Regions from separate parts of the Homo sapiens genome. Here region 1 is linked to region 2. Evidence: fine-mapped expression QTL. A gene starts in region 2. The other region holds a variant in brackets. All regions are shown on one strand. Distances are from middle to middle. Region 1 overlaps DAAM2 (dishevelled associated activator of morphogenesis 2). Region 2 holds the start of DAAM2 (dishevelled associated activator of morphogenesis 2).

Evidence for each region.
Region 1: its variant is fine-mapped to the expression of DAAM2 in whole blood (TOPMed, PIP above 0.99).

What each region holds. Positions count from the first base shown.
Region 1 is chr6:39,816,395-39,831,725 of GRCh38, reverse strand. All of the region lies in intron 1 of DAAM2 (dishevelled associated activator of morphogenesis 2), which reads right to left. LOC124901487 (a long non-coding RNA gene) reads left to right here and starts at 11,915. Exons shown (of 2, transcript XR_007059917.1): 1 at 11,915-12,029. RefSeq lists an enhancer at 7,006-7,566. The variant G/A (reference allele first, on the strand shown) is at 8,152.
Region 2 is chr6:39,786,378-39,801,708 of GRCh38, reverse strand. It overlaps DAAM2 (dishevelled associated activator of morphogenesis 2), which reads right to left and starts at 9,333. Exons shown (of 25, transcript NM_001201427.2): 1 at 9,244-9,333.

The sequences.
Region 1 (15,331 bases), 30 kb before region 2:
GCACCTGTCCCTCAGCGTGCCTACCCCCCAGGCCACAGACCTGGACTGTTCAGGTGGGGTCTTACAAGCCTCTTGACCTTCCCACCCATTTACTGTCTTTGTGGCCCTGGCAGAGGCCACACAGAGGTTAAGAGCCAGAACTCAGGAGTTAGACTTCCTGGGTGCAAATCCTAGAGCTGCTTCTTATCTGCTGTGTCATCTTTGGCAAGTTACTTAACCTCCCTGTGCCTCAGTTTCCCCATGTGAAAATGAGAATAATAATAGTAATCTGCCTCAAAGATTGTGGGGATTAATTGTGGGGATTAATTTAGTGAGTCAGGTACAGTGATTAGGGTAGCACCAGGCACCTATTCAGCACTAAGTGTGAATAACTCACACCCTCTCAGTGAGGTCTTTCAAGGGCATCTGAAATAGCAGCCCCGCTCCCAGCACCTCCCATCTCCCTTCCCTTCATTTTCCACGTAGACTTACCACCACCTGACAGACTATACATCCCATGTATTCATTATCCCTCCCACAAGAATGTATATTCCATGGGGCATTTTTGTCTATCATTCATTGCTGTATCCGCAGTGACTAGAATTACTACCTGGTACATAATAGGCCCTTGTAATAAAGAAGGAATATATGAAACTTACTAACTGTGTAGACTTAGGCAAGTTACATAACTCCCCACATGCCTTAGTTTACTCATCTGAGAAATGGAGATGATGCCCACACCCTCACGTTGATGTGAAGATTAAATGAGGCAACATTTGTAAATATGCCCACTCCGGTCCTTGGTACATGGTCGACCTGAGAGGACCAGTTTCTGCCTGATGGAGGAAGGGCCTGAAATGGTTAATCCCTGACTCTCCTCCCCCATGCAAAGCTGGTCCGGACTGCAGGGCCACTGGCAGCTATCCAGGTGGAGGCTAAATGTCAGAGGTGTGTGCCTGCAGAGCTGCCCTGGTCCTGATGCAGTCTTGACCCAGGCAGCTGGAGCCCCTCGCCACCCCCTCCTGCTGCCTGGGCCTGGAGCATTTGGGAGTGCAGGAGCAGAGTGGTGGGAACCTCCGCAGGCCTGGGTCCCACGCCACATCCTGGCCTTGGGGGAGGTGGGCCCAAGGCCTGGACTTGCTTCCCAGCTATTCCCAGGCGGCCCTCTCTCCTGCTGGCCCAGCTGCACTGCCTGAGCCGGAGGGCCACAGGGGTAGGTCTGTCTGTCAGCATCACTTGTCCCCACTCACGATGAAGAAGACGCAGGCCTCAGCACAAGCACAGTCTGGACTCAGAGCCCCACTCTGTCAGCCCTGAAGCCCACCTGCCTCCCTCCCTGGGAGGGAGTGCGTGGAATGACAGTCACAGAGGACTCACCGGACCCCAGCGACTCCAGCCTGTGGCTTCCCAGATTTCTCCAATTTCTCGCAATGCCCCAGCTTTTCAGCAACTTCTCTGAGAGTCATGCCTCTCCATGACGGACCCAGAAAAAGATGAAAATAGATAGACACAGGCTTCAGTGTGAATGCTGAAGATGAAATAAATGCAGTCCAGCATTGCCCCATGGGCATCCACTCCACAACCATCTATGAACCCCCACTCTGGGCCAGACACTGTGCACTGTAGGATGCGGCAGTGAATAAAACACAGACCTGATTGTAAAAATCTCCCAGTCGGAAAGGGGGTACAAATGTGAGCAGGCCGGGGTAGTGGGCAGAAGTATCTTGGTGGAGCTGTACAGGGAATGATGAGAGTATGGATGAAGGGTCTCTAACTCAGCGTGGGGAAGGAGGGAGCATGAGAAATCTAGAAGGGTGGTACCAAGGTGCTTCTGGCCAGCAACAACTTGGGGGAGAACAGAGGAGCTAATAAATGGAGAAATGATATTTCCCACCAAGGGGCCGGCTCAGAACGGCTCTGGGGAGGGTGCCAGCTTCAACTCCCATCCTCCCAATCTTCAAGCACTTTTACCAGAAACTAAGCCCTCTGAGGGCAGGGACCAGGTTCAGTCTGCATCCCTAGAATGAGGACAGGCATATATGGCAGGCACTGAGTAGAAATGTCTGAGTGTGCCAATGAATAAACAAACCCCTGAAGGTAAGATCACTACTGACCCAGGGACATGTTGCTTTTTTGTTATCCCACAGACATTAACATAAATTTCTATTGCCCAATTTCCTCTTGGTAAGTGTAAGAACCCTCACAGGCTATAAACTCTCCAACTGGTGCCAAATGAGGTATCACTCAGCCTCCAACACAAGCCTCTTAAGAGGGAACCAACCATGGGGTTCTGTCCATCACCCTGAGTGCTGCCAGCCTCCCCATCGATGGTCACCACAGTCACACTCCTTTGGTACACCCTGGGAAAAGCCGCAAGAATCACACACCACTGAGGATAATGGCCAGAAAGTCACTGCCAATGTTTGTGGCTCAGTATTTACAGAAAAACAGGATCATTCTGTGCTTGCTACCCACAACCAGTCATAGGCGCATGTGCAGGCCCATCCACACACCCTGTGTGGAACACACAGCCCGCTCCCCAGGCCCCTGCCATCAACAAAAGTATACAAAGAAGAGATGCCAATTGGATTTATCTGTTTAAACAGCATCCCGTGAAGCTGGTCCCTGGGTGAATTATCCAAACAGTAACCATTCTTGCTTCTTTCTTAAAGAAAAACTGTAGAGAGCATAAATTCTCCTTGCATCTCTGCTATTCATTCATGCAGCCAATATTTAATAAGGACCTACTATGCGTTAGCCCCTGCTAGTGGAACTGTGCTATGGTTTGCATGTCTGTGTTCCCTCCAAAATGCATATGTTGAAACTTAATCTTTGTTGCAATAATACTAAGGGTGGGGCCTTTTGGGAAGTGATTAAGTCATGATGGCTCTACCTTCATGAATGGATTAGTGCATTATAAAAAGGCGGGAGGCAGAGGCGGGCAGATCACAAGGTCAGGAGATCAACACCATCCAGGCCAACATGGTGAAACCCCGTCTCTACCAAAAATACAAAAATTAGCCGGGCATGGTGGCACGCACCTGTAGTCCCAGCTACCCGGGAGGCTGAGGAAGGAGAATCACTTGAACCCGGGAGGCAGAGGCTGCAGTGAGCTGAGATCGCACCATTGCACTCCAGCCTGGCGACAGAGCAAGAATCCGTCTCAAAAAAAAAAAGACGGAGGGGGGTGGAGGGAATTAGCTTAGGCCCTTTTAGCCCTTCCATTCCTTCTGTCATGTAAGGACACAGTGTTCTTCCCCTCCAGAGGAAGGAAAGGAACACAGACATGCAAACTATAGCATAGTTCCACTGGCAAGGGCTAATGCATAGTAGGTCCTTATTAAATATTGGCTGCATGAATGAATAGCAAAAATGCAAGGAGTACCTATGCTCTTTACAGTTTTTCATTAAGAAGCAACAAAACACCACCTTAGGAGCAGAGGGCAGCCCTCACCAGACAACAACTCTGCTGGCACCTTGATCTTGCACTTCCCAAAGTCCAGAACCATGAGAAATGTTGTTTTGGTTTATAAATTACCCAGTGTGTGGAATATTGGCACAAATGGACTAAGACATACTAGAAATGCAAAACTGAACCAGTCAGGGCTTTGCATTCTGGAAGCTAATAGTCTAGCGAGAGTCAGACAGAACAGTGGTTTTCAAACATTGTGCTCAGTGCTTCATCAGGGACAGGCCTGTGGGAGCACAGGTGAGAGGGAACCCTACTACCTGAAATTGGTGGGGAGGAGGAGGCGTTAGAGAGACTTTGTAGGTGTGGTGATTTTTGGGCTGAGTCTCCAAGGACAGCGAGGCGTTCCCCAGGTATGAGCCTTCAGGTAGCAGGGAGGGCAGGAGTTAGAAGTGTGAGCGGCAGGGCAGGCAGAGCTTGGGCAGCTGGCAAGATGACCCAAGAAGTACTCCAGGGCTCAGACATGAAGGGACTATACCCCTTGAATTCTGAAACTGGGTTTGTGATTTTCCAGATTCCCCTTTGGTCCATTAAGAGAGTTCATTCTCAGACCAAGGGGGTCAAGGGGTATCACACTTCACACAAAGACAGAGACCCTGAAGAGTAATCCAGGCATGAGGACCCCAAGGAAAAGAGTCAGGGAGAATCCTCCAGCCACTGTTTCTGAAGCCCAGGCCCCTGCATCCTACCAGGCCCGGGGGCACCTCCATGAGCCCACACACACAGAGCCAAGGCGTGAGTGAGGGCCACCATTCCCTGGGGTGGTGAAGCACCATTCCACAAACCCAGACCCAATAATCAGACTCTGAAAAAGACTACCCCCGCCCCACTTCAGCTCCTGGATAGCTGTGCCTTCCCCTCTTGAGATGTCACACTCCCCACCTGTGTGCAAATGGACTCAACTCCTCCTTTCTCCGACATGATCTGCAGGACGCCCCTCATACAGCTGCTGGCATGCACAAGACGTTGAGAATGAAGGTACTACCATTTAAAGACCGCTTTACAGGCGAGAAACTGAGGCCCAAGAAGCAGGCTACTTGCCTCAGGACCCACAGCAAACTCATGCCACAGCCATGTCTAGAACCCAATTTTCGAATTCACAGCACAGAACTCTTCTCTCCCACTACAGAACAGTCGCAGACAAATTCTGCTTTGCTTCCTGGTTTCTCCTGAGTTTCTACTTAAGTGGAAACAACAACTACAAAAATGCAATATAAAAACAAAAATTAAAAATTCCAAAAATCTTAGCCAAGATTCATTCATGAATATTTCCCCTAAATATTGTGAGCCCTGCTAGGATCCAAGCTACACCGCCTCTCTCTTTAAATATTCTCAAATACTCCAGGAAACTGATTCCCAACTTCTCCTGATTTCCTCACCTCAGATTTTCTCTTTGAAGCTTGAAGGGTACTTAGAAACTTCTCTTTAAAAAGAGAAGGTGCTCCTGACAGTCATTCCAAGACATTTGGATTTGCCAAGTTGAAGTTACAGAAACCTGTGACTATGCATACTAATTATTATTATTTGCCTACCATTAGTATGCTTTTTCACATTTCACATCTGATTTTTTATGTACATTTTTCTTAATTTTTGTGTGCAAACAGTCCTAATATGAAGTGAAAAAAATCACTGGCAAAAGGAGAAAAGCAAACAAACTAGCCTGGTGTCCAGGGATTCAAGAATTTCAGGAGGATCGTGAGGCAAATTGGATATGTTCTCCAGGAAAGGGGAGCTATTGGGCATATCAGCTACACAACCGATCACCTGAGGATTCCACTGGAAATGAAAAAGAGAGAAAGAGAAGGAGTCGAGAGTCCCCCAAAACCCTAAGTGGCTTCTCCCCAGCTTTAGGACACCACAGGGATGCTCACCTTTTAAGAGACTTGCTTTCCTAGAATAGCCCCAGCCCCTCACTTTGGGATTGTGCTGTGAATGACAAAGTACTCATGGCAGGGAGCCCAGAGAGTTCCAGCAGGTAAGGAGAAGACCCTCGAAAGTAAAATAAAAAAAAAATCTGCTACTAACTGGCAGTTATTTGAACTAGTTATACCAGAGACCAGGAGCAGGCCGCACAATCGCTTCTTCCCCAGGGCTCTTCTCCTAAGCTGAGAAGATGCCAGCCGTGTGTTTATCATTTCTCCCCACTATCTTTTAAGGCAGCCACATCCCAAGCCAGCAGGCAGAAGCTGGACCAAGACACATGTCCAATGGGGAAGGAGGCCAGGTTCACTGCACTAGGCATGAAATACGCCTTATCTCATATTTGCCAACACACCTGCACCATGGGGACACATAAAATGTGAACCTCATTCCCATTTCCCATTAGAAATTAAGAGATTCACAAAGCCCAAATAATGTGTGCTGGGCCATTTAGCAATGATAGAGCAGGACTGGGTCTCCCTCCAATTCCATTCTACCCAAGAGGTACAAGGACCACTGCATGTAGTGTGCAGGCTGTGAACTGCAAGAGAATCCCACATCCAAGGAGATACATGAGCCCACCCTGCCTGCAGGGCTTGTACACCTGGGAAAGAGTACACTCAGTACACTCAGTACAGATATCGGGGTGCAGAAAGCCAGTCCCACCTATGCTCCCTTGACTCCCCCCATTCCCACCTGCCCAATCACAGCCACGGTGGGAGCAGGGGAAGGACATATCTTATCCCTGGTACGATGGAGAGGGTGTGTGATCAGGTGACAGGGTGATTCTGTGAGTGAATGCACAGCCAGGCTCAGGAAAGTGCCCCCCAACACACACACACTGGCAGAGCTGGGCTACTTTACAGGAGTATGCTTAACTATGTTTCCTTCAAGAAACAAAGGCCCCCCACCAACCCCCCGACCTTGTGTTTTGTTTTGTTTTGTTTTGTTTTGTTTTGTTTTGTTTTGTTTTAAACAGTCTTGCTCTGTCACCCAGCTGGAGTGCAGTGGCGCAATCTCAGTTCGCTGCAACCTCCACCTCCCGGGTTCAAGCATTATCCTGCCTCAGCCTCCTGAGTAGCTGAAACTACAGGCGCACACCACCATGCCTGGCTAATTTTTGTATTTTTAGTAGAGAGAGCGTTTCCCCATGTCCGCCAGGCTGGTTTCAGACTCCTGACCTCAGGTGATCTTCCTGCCTTGGCCTCCCAAAGTGCTGAGATTACAGGCGTGAGCCACCGCACCCAGCCTGACAAAGACCCTTCTTAAATTCACATCCAGGCCCTGCATGGCTAAGCAGCCTCTCTGATCAGGCTCCTTCTTGGCAGCTGGCAGGTCAGCTACCTGGGCCCCTCTGAAGCCACCCCAGGTCACCTCTCATCATTCTCCTCCAGGAGTTAGACAGTTGGGATAACCTGGCTCTGGAGAGGAAGACTGGCAAGTCCCAAGAAAGTATTTGTGTCTCCCCCTGCTATTCTCATCCAGCTGGCCTTTCCCCATGGCCCTCACCCATGATAAATGCACCCTGGATGGGGAAAGAGGAACAGAAATTCCATGCTCTGGACCTTGCCTGGAGCTGGCTTCCCAACCATGCGACTTCCGCGGAACCTGCTCTTGCCGAGAAGGCACCAGTGGGTCCTCTCCAGCTCAAACATCTGCCTCCCTCAGCTTGTCCTGCCTGCAGGAGCTGGCCAGCTTCTCCTGCATGCTATGCTGATGCAAAGTTCTCTGTCCTGAATTGGCAGAACCACCTCTGTCAAGGATGTGGGGTTTGTTTTCTTAATTAACTGAAAATGCTAACATGGGAGCCCAGGAGCTGGCAGGGGCCTGGCCTTCAACCGCTGCTAGAAAAAAATCTTGCTTTGAAATCTGGATCTCTAACGCCCCACAGGGGATGTCAAAACAAACAGGGACACTTGATCCTGGAGCACAGGGCCTGGGGCAGGTTCAGGTTACAGGGCCAGAGATGGATTTAGCTACAGGATGCCACAGCAACCAACAGGTGACCAGATCCTGATTTCCCAAAATGGTACAGCTAGACCCCAAGATGCCCCCTGCTGGGGCACGGGCTCTAGGGGGATGGGGAGAGGTCATTGGGATTTATGCCAGCAATACTTCCTGAGTGCCTACTGCCCAGCAGGCACAGAACTGGGGGCGGGGGAGGCTGCAGAGATAGCCAAGTTCTATTGACTCCTGCGCTTGAGGAGATAAAATTAGGAACAAATTACTAATGTGTAGCACAGAAGGCCCCCAGAGCTGAAATATTTACTATCAAGACCTTTGCAGATAATGTTCACTGACTCCTAATGTACAAGACAGAAGAGGGTAGAGTGGAGTCTGGAGAAAAGACGACCAGAATGACCACCCAGGGCCCAGCTGAGGGACAGTAACCAGAGAGTGGAGATACAATGGAGCATCATTCAAAAGCAGAGATGACAGCAAGACCCAAAACCCCAGCAGGGGGAGGAGGGAAAGGAGGTGGAAGAGGATGGAGAGGCAGGGGTCCTCAGTCTCCTGCCTCCAGCCTCCAAGACTGGCAGGACATCCGATCCAGAAAGGATGCTGATTGCCCAGCCCCATCTAAGGGCCAAAGCACCAGGCTAGCATGATACAGCCCTGGATGCCCCCAGGGTGGTGAGGCACAAGTCACATGCACAGTTCTGTACACCAGGGATCATGCGATGGCCTTCTCACCTAACAGCTGGGCCTCAGGAAAGGTCAGAAGTTCTGAATGACCACAAAACATCCCTCTTTGGGAGGAAGTCACACAGTGTTCCAGGGAG[G/A]CCCCACACTTCCCCCTTCCCGGCACAAGTCGTCCCATCTGCAAAGGCCCAGAAAGGAGCAAGTTTGCTTGAGGTCAGAGATGCTATGTCAGAGCAGAGCACACCAATCTGAACTCAAGAGTCTTCGTTTTTCCTGACTTGCCTGTTCCTCTCTGAGTCTCTGGCCTAGGTCCATCCTGAGCTTGGAGACCAGCAGGTTGGAAGATTCAGAACCCCCAAGCTGCTTTGCCCCAACCTGAACTCCTCAGTTTTCTTCACCCCCCAGGAGAGGAGGATGTTGAACCATTTCCTCTTGGGACACCCATACTGCACATCTCCCTTCCTGCAGTAGAATCTGTCGATGTAGCCTTTCTTAATCTTTGGGCCTTTGAAGCACACAGTGTAGAGCCCAGTTTGAGAAACAAAGCATTGAAAGTTAAAAACTATCATTTTAGGAAACCACTCGGTGCCAACTTGCACAGAAACACAAACCTGGGGACTAAAATCGCATGCCAATAGTAGGTTATATGGTGGTCATTCAGATGATTCAGAATAAATGCCTCCAATTTTTACAGTATTATTATTAAAATGAAAACAAAGAAACATTTCTCAAGGAAAAGCACATTCTCAAGCAGAGTCTCAGACCTTGGAGAAAACAATCACACAATGTTCCCAGGGGTCTCTGGGGCCCAGTGTGAAGGGCTCTGGCTGGGGGTGAGGACCCAGGCTATGGAGTTAGGCTGCCCTGGACCCTTCCCTGTCCCAGCTGTGTCCTGAGTGCCCTCTACAATGGCTGTCACACAGTAGGCCAGCAATTCAACTTTGTTGAACACACAAATGAATAAATGGTTAGACGACTTAAGAGGTTCATCCTGGCTTTGCCATTTACCAGCCCTGCATCTTTAAGGAAAGGTCCTTAATCTCTGAGCCTTAGTTTCTTAATCTTTGAAATCTACAAAATTAGTCACAAGTCAATAAACTACTGCAAGAATTAAAGGAGATGCAAAGCCTTTAGCAGAGTGATTGGTGCATTCAAGGTACAGAATAAATGGTAACTATTATTGTTACTTTTCAAAAATGGCTTTAATCTCACATCCAAAATATCTTTCCAGCTCTGCACACCTTCCCAATTCCACCATGCCATATTATATTTTGGTAAATCCCCAGCACAAAGCCTGGCACAAGTAGGAACACAGAAAACATCTGTTGAAGCATAATTTAGCAGAAAGTGTCTCTGATTTGGAAACCCTCGGGTGAGTGCCAGGGGCTGAGGCTTCTAGCATTTCCTGCTTCCTCCATGGGAGGCCACCTCTTTGTAACAGACCCCAGCCCTCCAAACTGTACCTGAGCATTCAAGGCCAGGAAGCTCACCTGTGTCCATGCCACAGGAAATGGGACGGGGGCATTTGCTCTGCAGAGGGTGGGGATGCTGGCTGAGCCCATCCCCCTGCTGCATAGACTTCTCCTCCCATTCCTTCTCACTCCAGCTCTGGGGAGCGTGGGCCTCCCCCCAGGCAGCGTTCCCAGGCTTCAGCAGTAACAGGCCCTCCATTCTTCCCTGCCCTTGGCAGACCTGCCTCCTCCCACTACGACACTGTCCGCTGCTGCTCATGGGCAGCTGCCTCAATCCAAGGAGACAACGCAGATTTCTTGGGGCCCAGGCCTGGTCTGTCCCCTGACCCTATAGGAAGAAGAGGAATTGGTCCAAGTCTCCTCCTGAGATACACTCACAGGGTCACTCATTTCACCCTCAGGCTGCAAATGTCACTGGTCTCTGGCATCTTCACAAACAGCACTCACTGACCACACTTTGTTTTTCCCAAATGAGGGAGAAATCTGACATCTGCCCCTCCCGGATCTTCACTCCTTGGGCCAGGCTCCAGCTATGTTCAGATGTCAACCCCCAGCTCCCTGCCTCAAGGTTGACAACCACCAGGATAAGGTGGGGGGCTATCCCCAAGTTCAAGACTCGCTACCCACTGGGGATCCCAGTCCCCACCTCTGTCTCCTCCTTCTCACATTTGCCCATCAGATACCACTGGCAAGAGTCACCAGAACTCAACCCAAAATCTGCAATCCACAATCCAAGGAAGAGGATGTAACGCGGCTTTCTTTCACTTACCAAGTTTATCCAGCTATTTTCCAACTTTCTTTTTAGGAATCCTGAGCTCAGTCCTCAAGAATTATCTTCTGATGTCCCAGAGCTGGGTGCTGGGAGCCCAGGGCCACAGCAGGGGGCTGCAGACAGGGAGTCCTTCTGTGGGCATGGATTCCTGGGGTGGGGTGTGCTTGATTTGAAGCAGTGCCCCCTCCTCTGGAGGCTTCAGTACTAAAATCCAGCCCAGGAGTGTCCCAACCACAGCCCAGCAAGGTATCTAGCAAGGGAGGCAGGGCCACTGTCAGGAGCAGAATGTGTGGCTCTCTTTCTTAAAGGGACAGCCTGCCCCAAGAGCCCGAGGTGGGTGGAAATGCTAGAAAGGAAGGAGCAAGGGAGGATAAGCTAGCATCCTCCAGGGAAAAACTCTGAACACACACCAGTCTGTGACTCGGCACTAGCCTCATCCTGTGGTATGACAAGCTTCTCCACTTTCCTGATGTAGAACATGGAGGCAGAAAGACCCTTCCCCAAGGGAACTCACCTACTTTCCTCTAGGGCTGAACTCACCCAGAGGGTGTTGCAATAACCCATAAGAAATATTAATTATTTGCTATGTACACAGCACTTTCCTAAGTGCTTTGCATGAAGAAAATGATTTAGTCCCAATAGGAACTTTAGGAGGTAGGTATTGTGATTATTATTCCCATTTTACAGATGAGGAAACTGAGGCCTGGAGATAGTAAATTGCCAAGGTCTTACAGGTAATATGTGAAAAAATTAGGATTTGAACAAAACTGATTCTACTGGAGCTCAACCACTCATCTTCTACCAACCTTGTCCAGAGGGTAAATTTCTTTTTTCATCTTTATAGTTTTTAGTATTTTCCACATTCTAAAATAGGCATTATTCTGTATACAGAGAAAAAAAAATAAAGATCCCACCTTCTATCTCTCACTCCAATATTTCAATCAAGACGAGACTAGAGCGAGAAGATAAATGTATTCTACGTGGAAGCTCTAAGAGGAAGGAGAGTAGCAAAATTAACAGGACAGTGCAGCAAGGCTATGATTAAATCTATTTGAGTTAAGTTTTGCCTATTATAGATCCACAGGCAGGTTTTAAATAAAATTAAAATAATAGCTTCTTCTTTCAGCCAAAAACTGAAATAAAAAGTTTTTTAAAACCTGGTAACTGAAAAATTCAGCGAAGTCCAGGCTCCTCATAGATTATCCAAGACCTTTCCTAATTTGATCACCAGCTCCCTCCGCAGCTTCCCCCACATGGTCCCACCCACCCCACCCAGCCACCAGGCCAGATTACCAGAGGTTTCCATAAGCCTCTCCAGCACGCTGCCACTCACTCAGGCTAGGATGCCCATTCCCTCCACCTGTGCAGTCTTTGCCATCTTTCCAGACCAGGTTAAACTGTCAGTGCTGCTATGGAGGCTTCCACCCCCACGAGCAGAGTGTTGAACATTAAAAACTCCTTCCTCTGTGCTCTCACAAGCTTTGCCCGTTGCTATGGACTGAATGTGTGTGTCCTCTCAAAATTCATAGGTTGAGGCAGAATTCCCTATCTGATGCTATGTGTAGGCGGGGCCTTCGGGATATGATTAGGTCATGAGGGTGGAGCTCCCCTGAACGGGATTCATGCCCTTATAAAAGAGACCCCAGAGAGCTGTCTCATCCCATCTGCCATGTGAGGACACAGTGAGAAGGCTGAACCACCAGACGTCAAATCTGCCAGTGCCTGGATCTTGACTTTCCGGCCTCCAGAACTGTGAGAAATAAGCGTTTGCTGTGTAAGTCACCCAATCTATGGTATTTTGTTAGAGCAGCTTGAACTAAGACATCATCCAAAGTCTATTGTTAGAGGTAGCATCACATTGTATGCTAATTAACTGAGCATCTTTTTTTCACTTTTCTGTCCCTAGCACCTAGCACTAAAATCTTGTGGAGTCAGGCAGCTCATGATAGTAATTCTTATTGTTTGAGAGTGTGTTTGAGAGTGTGTCATAAGTGTTTAGTTTTGTGGGCACTTCCTCATGAGTTACCTCATTTGAACTTCACAACAATGAATAGGCATTAGATGTGTCAAATGTTAGTACTGGAGGAGGTAAGTAGCATTTGAGGTCCTTGTGACTCTGCCCTTTGAAGACTAGGTTTGCCCAGATGGACCTGAAGGACTGGCCAGGCTCCCCAAGCCCATTTTCAGCTGGGCCAGACTCTACACCGTCCCTGCCTTCCACAGGCCTCCCTGTGCTCCAACCTAACATCCTCTTGTCCTCAGCTTCCCTCCAGCCAAACAGAAAGCCAGTGGGCATAGAGATGATGGTGATGCTCACCAGCTGGGGTGTAGCCTGCATTCTCTGTGAGTTAGTGCATGCAAAATGGCCAAAGCACTGATGAGAGGCCACATGCCACATTTTCAAATAAGAACCCAGAACAATTCTGCCAGTTTTGTGGAGGAAAACCCTGTTATACATCCCTGAGGCTGTACCCCCTGGCACTGGCATCACTGAAAAAGGGTGTGGAACAAAGGCACACAGAATGTCAGAGCCAGAAGGAACCTTAGAAATCACATTGCTCAACCCCACTCTAGACAAGGAAATGAGGGCCCACACTCAGGAGAGGCTTGTCAGAAACAGTGACTCAGTAGCAAAAAACACAGAGCGACAGCTGGCTCCTGAGCCCTTTCAGATGATTCCGATCCAAGCAAGAAAAAGGAACCTAAAGAATTTATACTAAAAGGAGGTCACAAAGGCCAAATTAATTGCAAGGCATACTTCAATTACACAGCACACAAATGGGCTTTAAATGCAACATCACACACAGAAAACATGTTATAAAGAAAACAATACAGAAGAATAACAGGACGATGTTCAGTAACAGTGTTCAAATTTAGTCACCCTGGAGGCCAGGCCATGCTACAACCCATGTTCTTCCATGACCTCTGCTACGAATGAATTGAGCAGGTAGAGCTAAGTCTAACACTATTTCTGCATTGTGTTAGTAGAATGCATTAACGTCAAAATACCACAGATTAATACTTTCTTTCATCCTCAGATAAAATAATTTATAGTTGTTCTAGTTGTTGGTGCTTAGTCAAATATTGTTGGTCCCCACCCCCGATTACACACAGAGGATGGTACTTCCTGGGTCCTTGTGTTGGGTGGAGTCATGTGGCTAACTTTGGCCCATTCGCTGAAAATATGAAGGGTTAATTTTATGTGTCAAGTTGGCCATGGGACCAGGTATTTGGTCAAATACCAGTATAAAGGTTACTGTGAAGTTTTTTTTTTTTTTTTTTTTTTTTAATTGAGATGCAGTTTCACTCTGTCACCCAGGCTGGAGTGCAGTGACGCCACCTCGGCTCGCTGCAGCCTCCACCTCCCAGCTTCAAGCGATTCTCCTGCCTCAGCCTCCCAAATAGCTAGGACTACAGGCGTGTGCTACCATGCCCGACTAATTTTTGTATTTTTAGTAGAGCTGGGAATTCACCATGCTGGCCAGACTCGTCTCAAACTCCTGACCTCAGGTGATCCACCCACCTCGGCCTCCCAAAGTGCTGGGATTACAGGCGTGAGCCACCATGCCCAGCCAGAATTTTTTCTTTTTTTAACATGAGATGAACACTTAAATCAGTAGACTCTGAGTAAAGCAGATTACCCTCCATAATGTGGGTAGGCCTCATTTGATCAGTTGGAGGCCTTCAGAGAAAATGACCGAGGTCCCCCAATGAAGGGAACTCTACCCCTAGACTGCCTTCAGTCTTGAGCTGCAACATCAGCTCTTTCCTGGGTCTCCAGCCTGCTGGCCTACCCTGCAGATTTTTGACTTGTCAGTCCCACAACCATGGGAGCCCATTCCTTAAAACAAATCCAGATATATGTAGAGAGAGATCCTATTGGTTCTGTTTCACTATAGAACACTGATGAACAGAAGCATCATTAGTGGTCTAGAGCTTTTAATTGTGAGGACCAGACTCCCTTTTCCTTTAGAACAGCAACTGCCAACATTGAAGACAGGGCCTGTTCTGCCAGCCTCAGTTCCTGAGGGACTAAAACAAGCAGAGACCCTCTGTTGATCCACTACCGACAGATAACATGAGTAAGAAATACACCTTTGTTGTTTTCAGTCACTGAAATTTGGAGATTGTGTGTTATTACGCATAATCTTTTACTGACTGAAGTGCTCATTGTTTATCTTAGATTTAAGACATTAGGGGGCAAGGAGAGAAACCCAGAAAAGTAATAGAATCATAAAAGGATTTTGATCCTGGCCTCCCAGAAAGACTCCCAGGCACATGGCCCTTCCTCCAGCTGCATAGTTTCCCTGTTGTGTATGTTGGGATCCTGGGAGTCTTAACCCAGAATCCAGCCACAGTTGTGTAAGTGCATCAAAGGTGCGATCTCACTGCTGAAACTTCCCTAGAAAATGTTCAGAGCTCTGCTGAGGAATCTGACCTGGGCCTAGGATGGGAAGCCCTCCAAAGAACAAAAGTTTCCACTACGGCAACAAGAATGTTAAACACGATTTTGAAAAACTTCTCAGCAAAAGAAATGTGATGATGAGTATTTATAAGCCAAAAACCAAAGGCCATTCCCTAGTTCCTGTGAGGTTTCCCGCCACACGGGGAGCGTTAACAGGACTAGAGACGGTACTGGAAACAGACCTGGATGTCCTTGGCTCCACTGCAGATGGGTTAAGTGTGGAGCCTTTGAGAAAAAGCAGTCACAAAGTGTTGATGATTCTCCTTGGAAATCAAGGGTGATCCAGAGGCTGCTGGGACTCCTCCATACCTTTCTTCTCAATGAATAAATCCAGGCCCCTGAACTTAAATACAGAGGTAAAGTGTGGGGTAGAATAAGATATAATGGACTTGAACTATTACAGGAACTATTTAGCTGAGACCAGCAGCTCTCAAAACTGGGGGTGGCTACCCATCACACCCCCTGCCCCCAGAGACATTTGGCAATGTCTGGAGAAGTTTTGTGGTTCTCGTAACTAGTAAATGTTACTGAGATCTACTGAGTAGAGGCTCGGGGTGTTAATAAGCCTCCTATATACAAAAGATAGCCCCCCCACAACCAAGAATTATGTG
Region 2 (15,331 bases):
GGACAATGGGTGTACATAACCTGAAAGGCGGAATGTTCAAAGCACAGCACCAAAGACCGCCTGTGCTTGGGACAAAGGAGCAAGCAACAAACACCCATCAGGAGGAATCAGATTTGGCAGACAGCCATGCAGTCATGACATGAATAAGCACGCAGGCAGGATGGCGGCTCCCAGTGGGCCAGCAGGGTCCCTTGGGACCACCCCCTTCATACTGCAGAAGCACAGGTGAGGTAGAGAGGAATTCCCAAAAGTCAACTTGTCCAGCCCCTTGTCTCCAGGCAGGTCGGCAACAAGGCCATCTCATTATGCTTCCACCCAGATACATCCACACCCCTCAGATTAGCATGGGGTTGGGGAACAAAAGCAAATTTGCCAATAAAAGTCAAGACATTCACTCAGTCTGCCCAGTTTTGCCACAGCTCTATTTGTAGAGAAATCAGTTGAGGGTTGCCTAAAAACCACACAAAGCACAGGGGGAAAAATGTACTTTTTCATATCCTGACATAGCTACCAACAATTACCTAGAAAATAATGAACTCCTCTAAAACGATTTTATATAAAATTGCTAAAACTTGTAGCATTTTTCCAGGTACTGTGCCAGGGACTTAACATGCATCTTCCCATTTAATTGTCTCAACAACCCCATGAGGAAGGAAATGTTATTATCTCCATTTGACAGATAAGAAAACTGAAGCCCAGACAAGGTTCATAACTTGTTGGGCAAGTTATTAAATGGCAAAGTAGGTAGGGTTTCTTCTTGGGATGCAGACTCTGGGATGGAGTACAGTGGGCAGCAGGCTTGTTAGGAAGGGTTCCTCGAGTCAAGTCCTCCAGGCAGGAGGGCAGGTTGGAGGCAGCACTGGGCAGAGGGAGAAATGAAGCTCTGATGTAGCCTCAGCTAAGGCCTCCGCCAAACCCACAGGGAGCCCTGAAGCTGGCACGCCCGTTAGAATTGTCCCACATTGCGGCAGAGGGGCCAGGTAGTCACAGCTCCCCACCATCATTGGTTTCAGGGTGACCCAGGAGAGGAGCATGGACAGGAGTGCCTGACACAGCAAGTCTCTTTAGCCGGGGCTGCTCCAAAAAGGCTAACCATGTCCAGCACTCCCTGCAGCTGGGGACTCAGTCCTCAAAGGGGTCAGAGAGCACAGCCCAGTGTCCACTACACAGGGATGTGGACCCAGCCAGGCAAGTTGAGTGCAGGGCCCACATGCTTGGCCATTATACTATGCTGCCCGATTTGCTCCATCAAAACTGTTCTCCAATCTCATTGATCATCCTGCTATGTTTCCCGCATATTCAGTAATTAAGGAGCTCCAAGGAGGTAAGCCTAACTCTGATGAGCAGGAAGGGCAGTCATAGGGGCCTGATGCCTGATAGCTACCCCAGGCCCAGGAGACACAAGGAGGCCACACACACCAGGTAGTCACACCCCAGGGTGGTCAGCAGGCTGTGTACATCCGTCACGCAGCCTAAGAGCCAAAGCAAAGCTTGCCTGGGTGATGGATGATGCTTGATCTGGCAGCTCAGAGACCCAATCTAGTGATCATCCAGAAAGAAACCACACTTAATAGCTGACTGATGACAAAATGACCACCTCACCAGGAACAATGTGATCCCAAATATGTAAAGCTGTGTAAGTCTAGGCATAAAGACATCAGAAAAAATAAAAATGAGTTACATCCAGTGTAAGGATGACCTTGACATATGGTCAAGGGAAAGAAAAGTATGCTACAGAGTAACATGTACTATAAGATTCCCTTTCAGTGAAAAATACTCAGGCAAAATACCTCCATCCTGTATACACACCAGTAGGTATTTGTATGGACAAATGAAGTTACAGCAGGATATATTACTAGGCTATTAACATTAATTACCAGGGTGTAGAAGGGGGTGAATACATTTCTACTTGTCTTTATATATCTTTGCATGATATTAATTCACTTGCTTAAGCAAGAAAGAATTACCTTCATAATATGGAAAAATCAAATGAAGAATATATTTTTTAAAATGACCTGCCTAGTGTCATGTATAGTGGAGCATATAGATAAATAGTATTTCATTTCCTCTCCTCCTGCCCCTCTTAGGAGGCAGCTCCCAATCGTTCATTTGGGGAGGATCAAAAGAAATATTTAACTCAAGGTGAAGAGTTTTCTGTGCCCTCCCCTTCACCATCAGAATAGAACTTCATTTTTACATTATTCCACACACAATATATATCTGCCACCAAAATAAGTCTGCCACTAAAGTCTATAAAAATTATGCAACACATTCTGTAGTCAAACAGCAAAACTGTGCATTATTTGTTTGCTATTATTTGTGGCCATATTTCTATTACGGTGCTAACGAAAGAGCCAAATCCCAATTCTCTTGGCACATACCAAATCAACTCCCAATTATCTTGGCACATATCCATGAAAAGCCTACAGAAGACAAAACCCGACTTTTCACCACATCTGCTGACAAGAAATCAAAGAGTTGGTTTTAAGTTTCTTCCATCTTTCCCTGTCTCTGGCTACCCCCTAGAAGTGTTGTGGAGGGCAGGAGCCACCAAACAGTGGGGAGACGAGGACACAAAGTATCCACATAGTCGATAAACTGGGTAGCTCCTGCCCCTCTGGTTATGGAGACTAGCTCTTGCAAGCCCATCACACCTGGGCAAGTCCTACTCATTCCTCAAACTCAGACATGATTGCCTTGGATTAAGGGCCTAGTTGATATGGTTTGGCTTCCAGGCGTCGATTCTACAATGCAATTTGACTTTTATGAGCTGTAAACATGTAGAAAGCATGAAGGAGACTTGGTCCTTCCTCGACGGTAATGCAATGTGTTCAATGTGATGACAGAGTTGTGTGCCAGGTTCAAGGGAATAAGGAGGAAAAGGGGGTTGGAATGAGCCTTGTAGAGGGAATTTGAGAAAAAAAGGGACACCTGAGCAGGCCTTGGAGGATGAGTAGATCAGGAAGACCAGGACTGAGGCAAGGACTTTCAGGTAGAAAGAACTATGTATACAGGTGCACTGTTCTTGAGACTAGATTTGGTGCAATGAAACTTAAGTTAACCCTTGAGGACTGATGGGGATTGCTGGCCGACACAGCAATTGGTCATACAAAAGCACCTCACTCACACTTCCTGGGGCCTGATCTGTGTTGTCTTAAAAGGACACCATTTATCTCAGAAACCTCACATTAGTCTTTCTTCACACAAGCTTACTGACTGCCTATTTTTTCCTACTTCATCCCTTGATCTACCTTGTGATACTGGATTTAGATTTTGACTTTTGTCTAGTTAGTTCTCTATGTGGCTGATTGCTAGTAACTACAGCAACTACCATAGCTATAGCTAATGTTACTCTCCGCCAGGGGCTGACAACCCTCACAGTCATCCTATGAGGGAGGTATTTTATTATCATCCCCACTTTTCAGATGCGAAAACTGAGAATCAGAAAGGTGAAATAATTTGCAAGCTCTTTTAATAGGTAAGTGTTCCAGGAATCATACATAGGTTTATCTGATTCTAGAACCCATATTCTTAACAACCATGCAGTAATGACCTTCCCTAAGCTACTATACTTGCTCTGTTCATGTCTGGGATCCAGAGCAGGAGCCAGCAAACCTTTCCTGTGAAATGCTAGATGGTAAATGTTTTCAGCTTTGTAGGCCATGCAGTCTCTGTCACATCTACTCAACTCTGCCATTGCAGCACGAAAGCAGCCATAGGCAAAGCACAAATGAACAGAGATGGCTGTGTTCCAATAAAACTTTATCTATAAAACAAGATGACAAGCTGGGTTTCACTGTTGAAATTGACAACTTCTAATCTATGGTATCTTGTTCATTTGTTCATCTACCCAATGTTTATTGAGCACTTACCTTGTAGCTGGCACTCTCCTAGGCTCCAGGGATACAGGGAGAACCATACGAAGTCTGCACCCTCATAGGGCTTAAATCCTAGCAAAGTCTTGGCTGTTTCTTTTTCCCATGCCTGGTATCCTGGGTCCTAACTTTGGTGCTTTTCACTCCTCTTAGACCAGTGATTCTCAGCTTAGACTTCAGATCACCTGGGAAGCTTACAGAACTGTGGACGCCTAGGTTCCATTCCCAAGGAGTCTAATTAAATTGATCTGGGGTGGGCCCAAGCATTGATACTTTTACAAGCTCCCCCAAGTGGTTCTAATGTGCAGCCAGGGTTGAGACCCACTGCTTGGGGAACAGTTTGTTTTCTGTTTATTCCACTTACTTAAGGTGTGAAATATGGTAAGTTTTTTAAGTCCTCAGAATTTGGGCTGTGAAATGTGGTTAATATCAATCTCATATGATTGTCAACGATGTTTAAATGAGACAATGTACCTTTCAAATGATACAATGTTATATAAATTTAAAATACTGCTGTCATTGTGACATCATTATTAGATTTTAATGTTAGGTACTGCCTCAATGATTTCTGTCCTCAGTTTGACCTTGATTCTCAGGACAGTATTTGAGCTTTTTAAACAAGCTCTATGGAGAGCTCACTAAATAGCCCAAATTCATGGGTGAGTGAGCTAGTGGCCTTTCCTTTATTCCAATAGAGGGTCACATGGGGCTGCCATTTGCTTGGCATGGGGAGCACTGTTCTGTGCCCCACTTTTGTATAAAGGGTCTCCATCTCCAGGCTGAGATATCTGACCTCCAAGCACAGTTGTTAATCCTTGAATAAGTGGCTTATTTACTTTGACCTGTGGACAAATGTCTAAACCCATGTATTTTCACGGACTTAGAACTGGAGAGGGGAATGGCATTAACATTTTACTGAGCAGTTTGCTAGCTTCTTCCCTTATATCATTCCATTTCATTTTCAGAACAACCCTGGGGAATGAGAATAGTTATTGTTCTCATTTAACAGATAAAGAAGACTCAGAGAGGTTAGCAAGCTTGTGACCTGGTGGTGCCAGAACTCAAATCTCTGTCTGCTTGATTCTAAAGCTCTTCCTTGGAACCATAGGATGTACCACAAATAATTCAGCTCCTCTTTGGCCAGGATTGAAAGAGACATCAAACTGCCTAAAGTTCATTTTTTTTTTACAGGTTTTTTTTTTTTTTTTTTTTTTGGAGGGGGACCCCAGAAAGAAACCCATAACACCTATTAATAACCATAGTCTGATAAGTCTTGGCCAGTGCTAGCATAACGCTGCACAGGTTCCAAGAACAGGCACTTACTTCCTCCCCCCACAGCATCTTGACTGTGCAGTTTTAGAACCTCATAATGAAACAAAAAACAAACCAAAAAATGTGGAGAGAGTTGGAGAAATAGATGCTGCCAAGAGTGAGGAATTCACTGACCCCCGCTCTGGGCCATCTCAAGAGAAGTTGACCACTGGTTGAGCCTCTTAAAAGCTTAAAAGTCATCCCAGGCCATGGTTAAAGAGAGAGCTTGAACAAAACAAAAACAAATGTGATCTTCAAAATCTTAAATGTCAACTTGAAGGATAACTTACAAGCTTTGAGATGGGCCAAGAGGACCTGCAGCTGCTCTCTAACATCAGATGTTCCTTTGTTCCTTTGGAGTAGTCACTCCCTTGGATAATGTATCAATCAGGGTTCAGGGGGCAGCCTCCCACCCCATACCCACTGGAGATGTTTGCAATGACTAAAGCTTTCATTCTTTACAACCCATCAGATTCCCCCATTACTCTGACCTGAGCACCCTTGACAAGGAGTGGCTGCCTACCCGCTCTCTGACTCAGGCTTGTCCTTCAAGATCCAATTGGTCCTTGACCCTCCTGCCCTACCCCCACCTCCCTACCTTTCCCCTCCCCACCATACTTATACAACCTGCTCTTCTGTCCTTCTCCCTCCCTAAAGAGCACAAACACAAGAGTGATTTCTAGGCCAGACATCCAGGATCCCTGGTTTCTTCTCCCACACTTCAGGATAATGGACCAGGGATGCTCATGGAATATCTTCATTGGTCACCTTTTCTAGAGGAAGGAAGTAAGGATGATCAGAGCCCTAGAAACTCCACCCACTAGCCTTCAATCATGGAAAATATGTAGCTAGATTTGGGGAGAGGTTCTTTCCAAGCAATACTGGCTTGTGATGGCTGAAAAACTGAAAAATAAAAATACAGCACTCCCTTTATGAAGGGTCTTATAACATTCTGAGCTCTGTTCTTAGTTCTTGTGCATAAATGTTTTCATAATGACCTGGGGAGGGAAATACTATCCTTATTTTACAGATGAGGAAGCTGAAGCTCAGAAGGAATAAGTCATGTAGCCCAGGTTACTAATTCGTATTTAGGTCACAGTTCTCTCTCTCCAGGCAGCTGATCAGAAATCTGCACTCTTTCCATTGTTGTCGGGCTGCCTCTGAAGTCTAGGGCTGAATGACACAGGATCCTTGACAGAGTCTCTGGCTGTTGAGATCTAGAGGGTCATCCGCTATCAAAGCCAAGGATATCCTTCAACTTGTTCTTTCTGCCAGCTGTGTTTGCCCTCTGGACCTTCAAGGATGTCTTGGAATGCATCCCATCTACTTAATCTAATCTCAAAGATGACCAAAGAGCTGGCCAGAAGATTGAACTGATAGAATGAGCCATGAGAAGGCTTCAATGTCAGCCTAGGCATCCATGGCCTGGGAATTCATCCCGGCCATAGTGAAATGTCTCCTAGTACAAGCCCAGAAGCATCAGGACTCCACTGATCCCACATGCAGCACTCCCAGAAACCCCACATGTAGAAAGAGTTGAAAACCCAGTTCTTGCCCCTCACCTGTCCCTGAGGAGTTGTATGCTGGGATAAGAGTATTTCTGGGAATCCTGTTCCGAGGGGTCCCTTCTGTCCCTGGGTAGTCTTCTATGTTTAAATAATGGAAATGAATGAGAACATTTAAACTTGTTACTTCCATTGGCTCTAGTAAAATCAAATAAGAAAGCCTCATCTTTCATTATCTCTATGCTTTCTCTACTGCCTGTACTTACCCTTTATCTTCATTCTTTACACCTGGATCCAAGGCTCTTTAGTAATGGGGAGTTTAATCTGTTTTGCATCAAAAACTTTGGAGACAGTCGGGAAAGAAGACTGGGGAGAGAACATGTTCTCACAGCAAGCAGTAGTATTTCAACTTCCTCCACGCTCACCAAAAACAAAATCATTTACAGGCCTTCCTATTGGTCTTGCCTGCACAGCCTCCGCCTTCTTGAGCCCCTGACTCTCTAAGTTCTAATGCCCAGGAGAATGTTCTCTCCTCTTTTTGTCCTGATGGGGGCACGAGTATTCCCTCAGCATCCGAGGCGCTGGAGGAAAAGCTCTGAAAACTCAGCTGGGAGTTAGGAGCCAGAGTTTGCAACTACCAGGGAGCAAGACAATAATAGCACAGTTGTTTGCATAAAGGAAGAAATGGGGGTTAGATGGAGTTCCCAGCACAGATGAAGAAATAGACCATTTATCCTCCCATGTCTAAGGCCATGGCCATCACCACACAGTCATGTATGTGTAAAAACACATAGGCATGTGCATCTCATGGGGACCAGTCACTCCTGTTTACATGCACCCTTGTTTACATTGCCTATGGGATGATTTCCTCCTCCTTCATTACACTTCAGTTGACAACGTACTCCTGAAGTTAAATGAGTCTGTTTCTGACATTGCTGCCTGCTCCATCTTTTATGGAGCTTCCCTGGGGTTCAATTTATATAATTTCTAAAATCCTTCCTGAATCTTAACTTCCTGTGGGTCTGTTTTTACATCCAGATTTCCTCCCTGTCCCTTCATTTTCTCATTTTTCTAGGACAGAGGGAGAGTCCAGTAATCTTCCTCCCACCCAGACATTGTAGGTTGGCTCTACTGCAAAATACAAAACCAGAGACCTGGCTAGCTCAAAGCTGAAAATTCAGTCTGTCTGTGGTCACTCGTTTGTGGAACCCAGCTATTGACAGGCAGTGCCTGGCACTGTGCTACTCAGGGATGATGGATCGATACAGCCTCACTGCTGCTTTTTTCCCCTACTCTCCGTGGAGCACACTTTCCGCCCTAGGCCCTAGGGAAAATCCATCCCCCGCTTCAGCTGGCTTTGCAAAGAAACTCAGGAAACTAACACCAAACTCAGAAGGGGGAAAACACAAGACTTTGAACTTTTTAAAGATGGGAAGCTGCTTTCATTCCCACGTGGGCATCAAGGGAAAACCTATGGGGACTCTTTTCCGGAGAGGTGTGATTTTCCTCTAACCCTCCGAGAAACGTTCCAAATCCACTCCAAAACTGTGGAGAAGTGGCCGAGGCAGAGAGAGAAGAGTTAAATCAAGCCCAGATCTCAGCAATCTGTGTTCAATTTTGATAAAAATCTCCCTCTCCCCCACCGCCCCCCTTCCTCCACCCCACAGCTCAGACACGTCTCTTTATGTTAGGAGCTTGCATCTTGTTTGGGGCACCACACGCGGCACTCCTGGAGAACCTGGCACGTACCTCACCGTGGCCATGTGGCAGAACCAACCATCCCACTCCCAAGCTACGGCTGGACACAGGGCCACAGCGTCCTGGCCATCACCACCACCTCCCCCTCTTCCTTCTCATCCTCTTCACAAAATTACCTGCCGCCAGACCAAGTCCCTCATTCCCCGGTTAAGTCAGAGTCCCGACGCCTGGTAAAGTCAGGGCATGAGGTTGGTTTGCGACCGCAGGTGCTGAGAGCCCCAGAGTCCGGGGACCCCTTTCCTGAGATGCTCCTTCCCCCGCCCAGGGTCCCACTGCCACTGAGAACAAGAACCTTACGGCTGCCCTGCCCACTGGCCAGAGGCCAGGCCTGCAAGTGGGAGCTGGGGGCTTGTGAAGACTTCAGCCCAGCCAAGTGAAGGTTCAAGCCGAACCCGGAAAAGCCACCACCAAAAAGTTGTCAGTTTTGCGGGGTATCTTCTGTGTTTGTCCACTTGTGACAACCAGGGGTCAGGTTTCAAAGCCGCAAAAAACATTTTTAAAAAGTTTTCCAAAGACATTTCCTATGTCCAGATGTGCCAGTACAGACACACGCAATCACACTCATACACACACACAACTCACACACACACAGGCCCTGGGAGCCCACTCCGGGGTCGGCGGCTCCTGCAAACACTTTGGAGAAACAAAACCGCCAGCCTGCGGAGCTGCTGCCTCCCCAAGCCCCGCGGGGCATGCTAAAGAAAGCAGAGGGAGAGAAGTGTGGGAGCCCAGCGGAGAGGGCTCCCCGCGGCCCGGGCCCCAAGACGGGGAGCGCCAGGGCCGGCCGCACTTACTCCGAGGACCCCAGGGCGCCCGCGCTCCCGCAGCCCGAGGTACGGCGCCGCCGCCCGCGCTCCGCTCGCTGCTGCGTGCTCCGCGCTATCCCCGGGAAGCCGCGGCTGCCGCCCCTCCAGGCCCGGCCTCGCGCCCGTCCGCCCGCCCCGCTCTGACGTCAGGCGTCTTGGAGCGGGATATTTATGGCAAGGTTACTCTGAATTTTCCCTAGGTAGACTTCTGATTGCAGTTTCTTGGGATTTGTAATTTTCACACTTTCAGACCGAACGCAGGCGGGGGGAGAGCGCCACCGGCAGGGCGAGGCGTACAATGAGGGTAGCTGTTCCCCACTTTGGCAGGGAGCGTTCTCAGGGCCCCTTCTGTTTTGGAAACATGGAAGGGTCAAAGAGGCAAAAGTGGCCACCTGGGCAGCGGGTTTCTCCCCGGCTCCTCCTCTGGGCTACGGGCAAATGGCCTGGTCTGAGGCCGGCTCGGAGGTGAAGGTCCCGGTGCCAAGGAATCCCCTGTCCCTCCCCAAAGTGTCCCTGCACTGGACAGTGTGTCCCAAGGGGTGCTGGGCAAGACAGGAGCGAAATCAGGCACAACAGAACAGCTAATTAGGAGTCCTGGTCCACGCCCTAACAACTTTTCCATTTCTTTTTTGGGAGTGTATATATATTTTTTTAAGTTTATTTTTATTAAATTATGTTCCACACTCCCTGCCTCTGTATAGCTTTTCCAATTCAGTGCCAGTCAATTCATCTTACTTCATTGCTTGTATGCATAGTTTGAGCAGTTTACAATAGCTCTTATTCATACTTTTAAAATTTCCTTTTAGTTTTTTTTTTTCTTTTTTTTTTAAATGTGATTGTGGTCTGTCTCCTTGACTGAACTAGAGATTGCTTTGGTCAAGAGCAATTGTCCTCTCTGGGATTGGCAACACCCTCACGGGGAGTATTTGATCTTCTCTGTTTCCTATTTTCCCCAGCTCCCTCTGCAAGCAAATGGTGCCCCCACTGGGTGATGACCTGTATACAGTTTTCTGGGTGTTCAGTGGTTGTTCTGTGTTAGTGGTTGTCTGTTTCTCCACCTCACCAAAGGGGCTTAGGGAAATGGCTTGGTTTAAGGGCCACCCTTCCAGAGAAAAAAAGAGAATGTAATGCATGATCTTCCAGAGGAAAAAAAAAAAAAAAAGAGAATGTAATGTGTTATCCTTCATGGTTCCCAAGGATTGGAGAATGAAATGAACTTAAAATGATACACGTGAGATGCAAAATACTTATATGGTTAGACAACATAAGTGTTTAGGTATTCATCTCACCATGAATGGGAGGGGGCACGGATAATTGCAAATCATCATTAAAACACAACTATAGTGAACTTTCCATTAGCCCAAACTGGTAGAGGCGGGGTTGTGTTTTAACCACAGTTACAGTGCAGCAGGGACTCAAGGACTTGGAATGTGTTTACCTCTTTGGCAGCAGCTGGTTAGAGCTGATTGCCAGAAGGAGCTGTCTTAGGGCTGGGCCTCTCGGTAGAGGCCACGCTGTTTTGACCCAAGCCACCGAGGGCCCTGCAGCAGGGAGCTGCTGTTTGGTCACTGTGGGATTGCTCTCCCTGGCATAATACCCCACTTTTACCTCCTTCCATTCCCTCTCTCATATCAAGGCTCCACTGGCAAGGTGAGCTCTGTTCTTCAGCAGACCCTGCAAATAGGTTTCCAGAAGCCATTGACAAACCCATTCTCCCTTGCCTTTCTCAACTAAAGAAGTTAGAAATCTACAATATTCACCATCCCAGACTCCCTGGTAGCTCACAATTGCTATGAGACCAAGTTCTGACCAGTGAGATTGTAATACAGAAGACAGAGGATGCCTTCCACAAACTCTCTTTAAGAGAAGATCAGATTTGGCCAGGCGCGGTGGCTCACGCCTGTATTCCCAGCACTTTGGGAGACCGAGGCGGGCGGACCACGAGGTCAGGAGATCGAGACCATCCTGGCTAACACGGTTAAACCCCGTCTCCACTAAAAAATACAAAAAATTAGCCAGGCGTGGTGGTGGGCGCCTGTAGTCCCAGCTACTTCGGAGGCTGAGGCAGGAGAATGGCGTGAACCTAGGAGGCGGAGCTTGCAGTGAGCCGAGATTGCGCCACTGCACTCCAGCCTGGGCGACAGAGCGAGACTCCGTCTCAAAAAAATAAATAAATAAATAAATAAATAAATAAATAAATAAATAAATAAAAACACAAAAAAAGATAGGGCCAGAGACTCAGAGGTGGCAGGTTGGGGACATCATGAGGACAGAAACAGGGGAAGTGAGGCTGAGGAGCAAGCATTCTAGGTCTGGGAGAGGGGAGTCTCTCCATCCTTGCCCAAGTGTTTTGGAGGCAGGGTCTCTCTCTGTCACCTAGGCTGGAGTGCAGTGGCACGATGATAGCTCACTACAGCTTCGAACTCCTGGGCTCAAGGGATTTTCCCACCTCAGCCTTCCCAGTAGCTGGGACTACAGGTGCATGCCACTAGGCCCTGCTAACCTTTTTTTTTTTTTTTTTTTTTTTTTTTTTTGTAGCGATGTGGTCTTGCTATGTTTCCCAAGCTAATCTCAAATTCCTGGTCTCAAGCAATTCTCTCAACTCGAGAGGCCGAAGCGCTGGGATTACAGGTGTGAGCCATTGCGCCTGGCCCCCAAGCATTCTTAATTGGGTTCTATTGGGATGAGGAGCAAGTGAAATTCATAAAATACGTGGCTGTCAGTGCTGAGGAGCTGTTTTTGAGGTTGGCAAGCCCTGAAGAGTCCATGAAGTAGTAGGGCCCACTCGAAGATCATCTGATTCACTCCCTACCCCCAGCCCTATCACTCACAGGGTCCTAATGTGGGAGTCTCTCCTATTCTCAAGATTCCCAAGAAAGGGGTTTCATCCTTCTTCACCTGCATATTCTAGGAATGTTCCCGGAACATACAGTGAGGCCCTCTGTAGCACACTACTCATCTGGAAAATTGTACCTGCTTGATGAAAGATTCTCAAATAGCACATTATGGTTGACCTGGCTTCCAAAGCTCACTATATACTTCCAAGGCCCAGCCTATCATGATAAGAAGCAGGCTTCACAAAAGTCACTTGCTCACTCTCCAGGGGTAGAGATCCTAGTCTAGTACAGCATGGACCACAATAGCACTCCATAAAGACTTTCTGAAGAATAAATGAAGGCCCCATGAATATGTCATCTAATCAATATGTGACTCTCCGCAAATAACATATACCTTTCTCTGATTTACTATTGTGGACTATAGCAAGTGTTTGAACCAAAGACCTTGGTTAAATCCCAGCCCTGCCTCTCACTGCTGTGTGACCTCAGCATGGCAGGAAACTTTCTCAAGCATAGTTTTTGTGATGGTTAACTTCATGTGTCAACTTGGCTGTGCCACAGTGCCCAGATAGTTGATCAAGCATTATTCTGGATACTTCTGTGAAGGTGGTTTTGGATGAGATTAATATTTAAATTGGTGGACTTTGAGTAAAGCTGAGTACCCTCCATAATGTAGGTAGGCCTCATGCAATCAACTGAAATTCTTAATAGAACAAAGACTGACCCCCACCCCGCAAGAGGGAACTGTGCCAGCAGACTGCCTCAGGACTCCAACTGCAATGCTTCCCTGGGTCTCCAGCCTGCTGGCCTACCCCTGCTGGTCTACCCTCCAGATTTTAGACTACCAGGCCTCCATAATTACATAAGCCAATTCTTTAAAATCAGTCTCTCTCTCTCTCAATATTCATATACTACATCCTGTTGGTTGTTTCTCTGAATCTCCTATTAGTAGGAGAATCCTAAAAAATACAGTGTTCTTCAACAACAACATGGGATGAAAATTATTCCACCCTAAAGTATTGTTGTAAAGTTCAAATGAAGCAAAATAAATTGAAAGCCTCTACCTCAATAAGTTCTTCTGAAACTTGGAAGGAAAAGGATGCCTCAAAATTTCAAAGTCTTTTTCATCCTACCACTTATGTGGTCAGTATCAATCTGCTGGCTCTTAGACTCTGTTCAGGGAGGTGTCAAACTTTGTTATCAGGTGTGCTGTTAATGCCTAGAAGGCAGAAGCAACTTGTCTTGAACTGGACCCCATCCAGCACAGACACATCACACTTCAGGTATTTTGATCATGAGCCTGATCCTGGGGCCTATCCTGCTTCTGTCACTTCTAGTAAGGGATACAACCTCCACTGTTCAGGACAAGACTCCTGGACTTCTATTATCTCACGGTAACTTCCAAGGATACAGCTAAAGAGAGAAAAAGCCCATGGCTACCACAATTTCTTCCTGAAAGTACATACTTATCAATAGAACATGAACTGCATGTCCCAACAACTTGAAGATATTTTAGGTCCTCATTGTCATGTGGTAGAAATGACCCCAGAATATGGCATGAGAAAAACCTGGTTTCTAATTCCAGCTCTGACTCTTGTAAGTAAGAGCATCATTTCACTTCTCTGCAAAATTCAGACTAATAGAAGGACCAATCCCATGGTGCGAGAGTAAGGATTAAATTGCAGAATATTTGTACCTTACAGATGACCACTGTTCTTATATGCCTTTTCTTCTCTTTGCCCTCTTTCCTACCTCTATACCCACTCCCTCCACCCAACACACACAGCTCCTCTGTTAGTTAATTTTAAGAATGTACTCAACGTTAACGTACAGGTTTCTGGAGTCCAGCTTTCTGCAAACCTCTTTCTTGGAGTTAAGAAATCTCCCCTGGCTCAAGCATAACCACAGCAAATAGGCAGCAATCAGAAAATTGCCCCCATAAAGGCCATCTCCTCCTGAGGAGCAGGACTGCATTTTTGAGAAGCCTTCTCAGGTTGTTTGCAGCAGCTTTGAGGGTCGGCTCTGCTGCCTTGCCTACGTCAAAACCCCAAGTGTTTAACCACAAGACACACAATTCCAGGACATAGTGGCGGCGGCCCTCCACCCCCGCAGAGAGACAGGCCACGCGTATGTCTAATCTGGCATGTGGCCTCCCTCAAAGGCCAGCAAGGCAACTGTGGCCCACTGCACCACACCTGGCCAAATTGAGAGGGACTATCGCACAGTGAGTAGAGTGCCAAAATGGGTGGGAAATGGAGTGGAATTCTTTTCTGACCATCCTCCTGCCAATCTGTGATCAGAGCCCAAGGTCCCCAGTCTGCAAAGGCCATTCCTGCTAGTAGCCACCACCACTTTTGTTATTTCTGGAGCCAGGGTACTTGCACTGTCATGATCACATACAAAACTTCCATTATACCCCATTTTCAGTAGCTCAAAATCCTTTGAAAAATAATGCTCAGGGCCAAGTATTCCAGTTAGCTTCAGGGTAAAATTATATTTTGGAATATTTAAAAGAAATAAGTTTCCCCAGGTGATCTATATTGGGGGTGATGATGGGTCTCACACACACACACATACACACACACACACAGACACACACAGACACACACATACACATTTTTCTCCATTGAAAAATAGTTTGAAACTGCTTACAATGTTCAGGATGTGTGACTTTGGACTGGCATATGGATGTGTGTGCAACTGAGCAAAGACTCAGGGACATCAGGAGAAGCATGACACATTTCATCATTCAGTGGTTTTGTCTTTTAAAGGAAAATAGCTTAAAAATGGTAAAGTGATAATGTTAAGAATCTGTTCTTAATTACCACTCAGTAACTTGGCAATCTGTTTTATCCCATTCATTTCTTTCAGAAAGTTCTTAGCAACTCGTCTCTTAAGCTGTGTGTACACAATCACACTCACAGATATAAAGAAAAAGAAAACTCAACCTGGTTGCCCTTGGAAAGAGCACAGGACATTTGCACATTTAATTTGCATACACATTCTTCTGTATGCCAAATATTTATAAGCACAGATTTTCACACACTGGCAGGTTTCATAAGCACCCAATAATAGGCTTGTCTGACTATTGCATGTCGGTGGTTTGGGACCCCAGTGTGGAGACCTTTCTTACTTTCTTTAAAAGAAGAAGTAAAGAAACCCTCCACTAACACTTTGGCTCATTCGGTCCTGCTAGGTGCCAGGCACTTTCATAAGCCCTGGAGATATAAGATGAATAA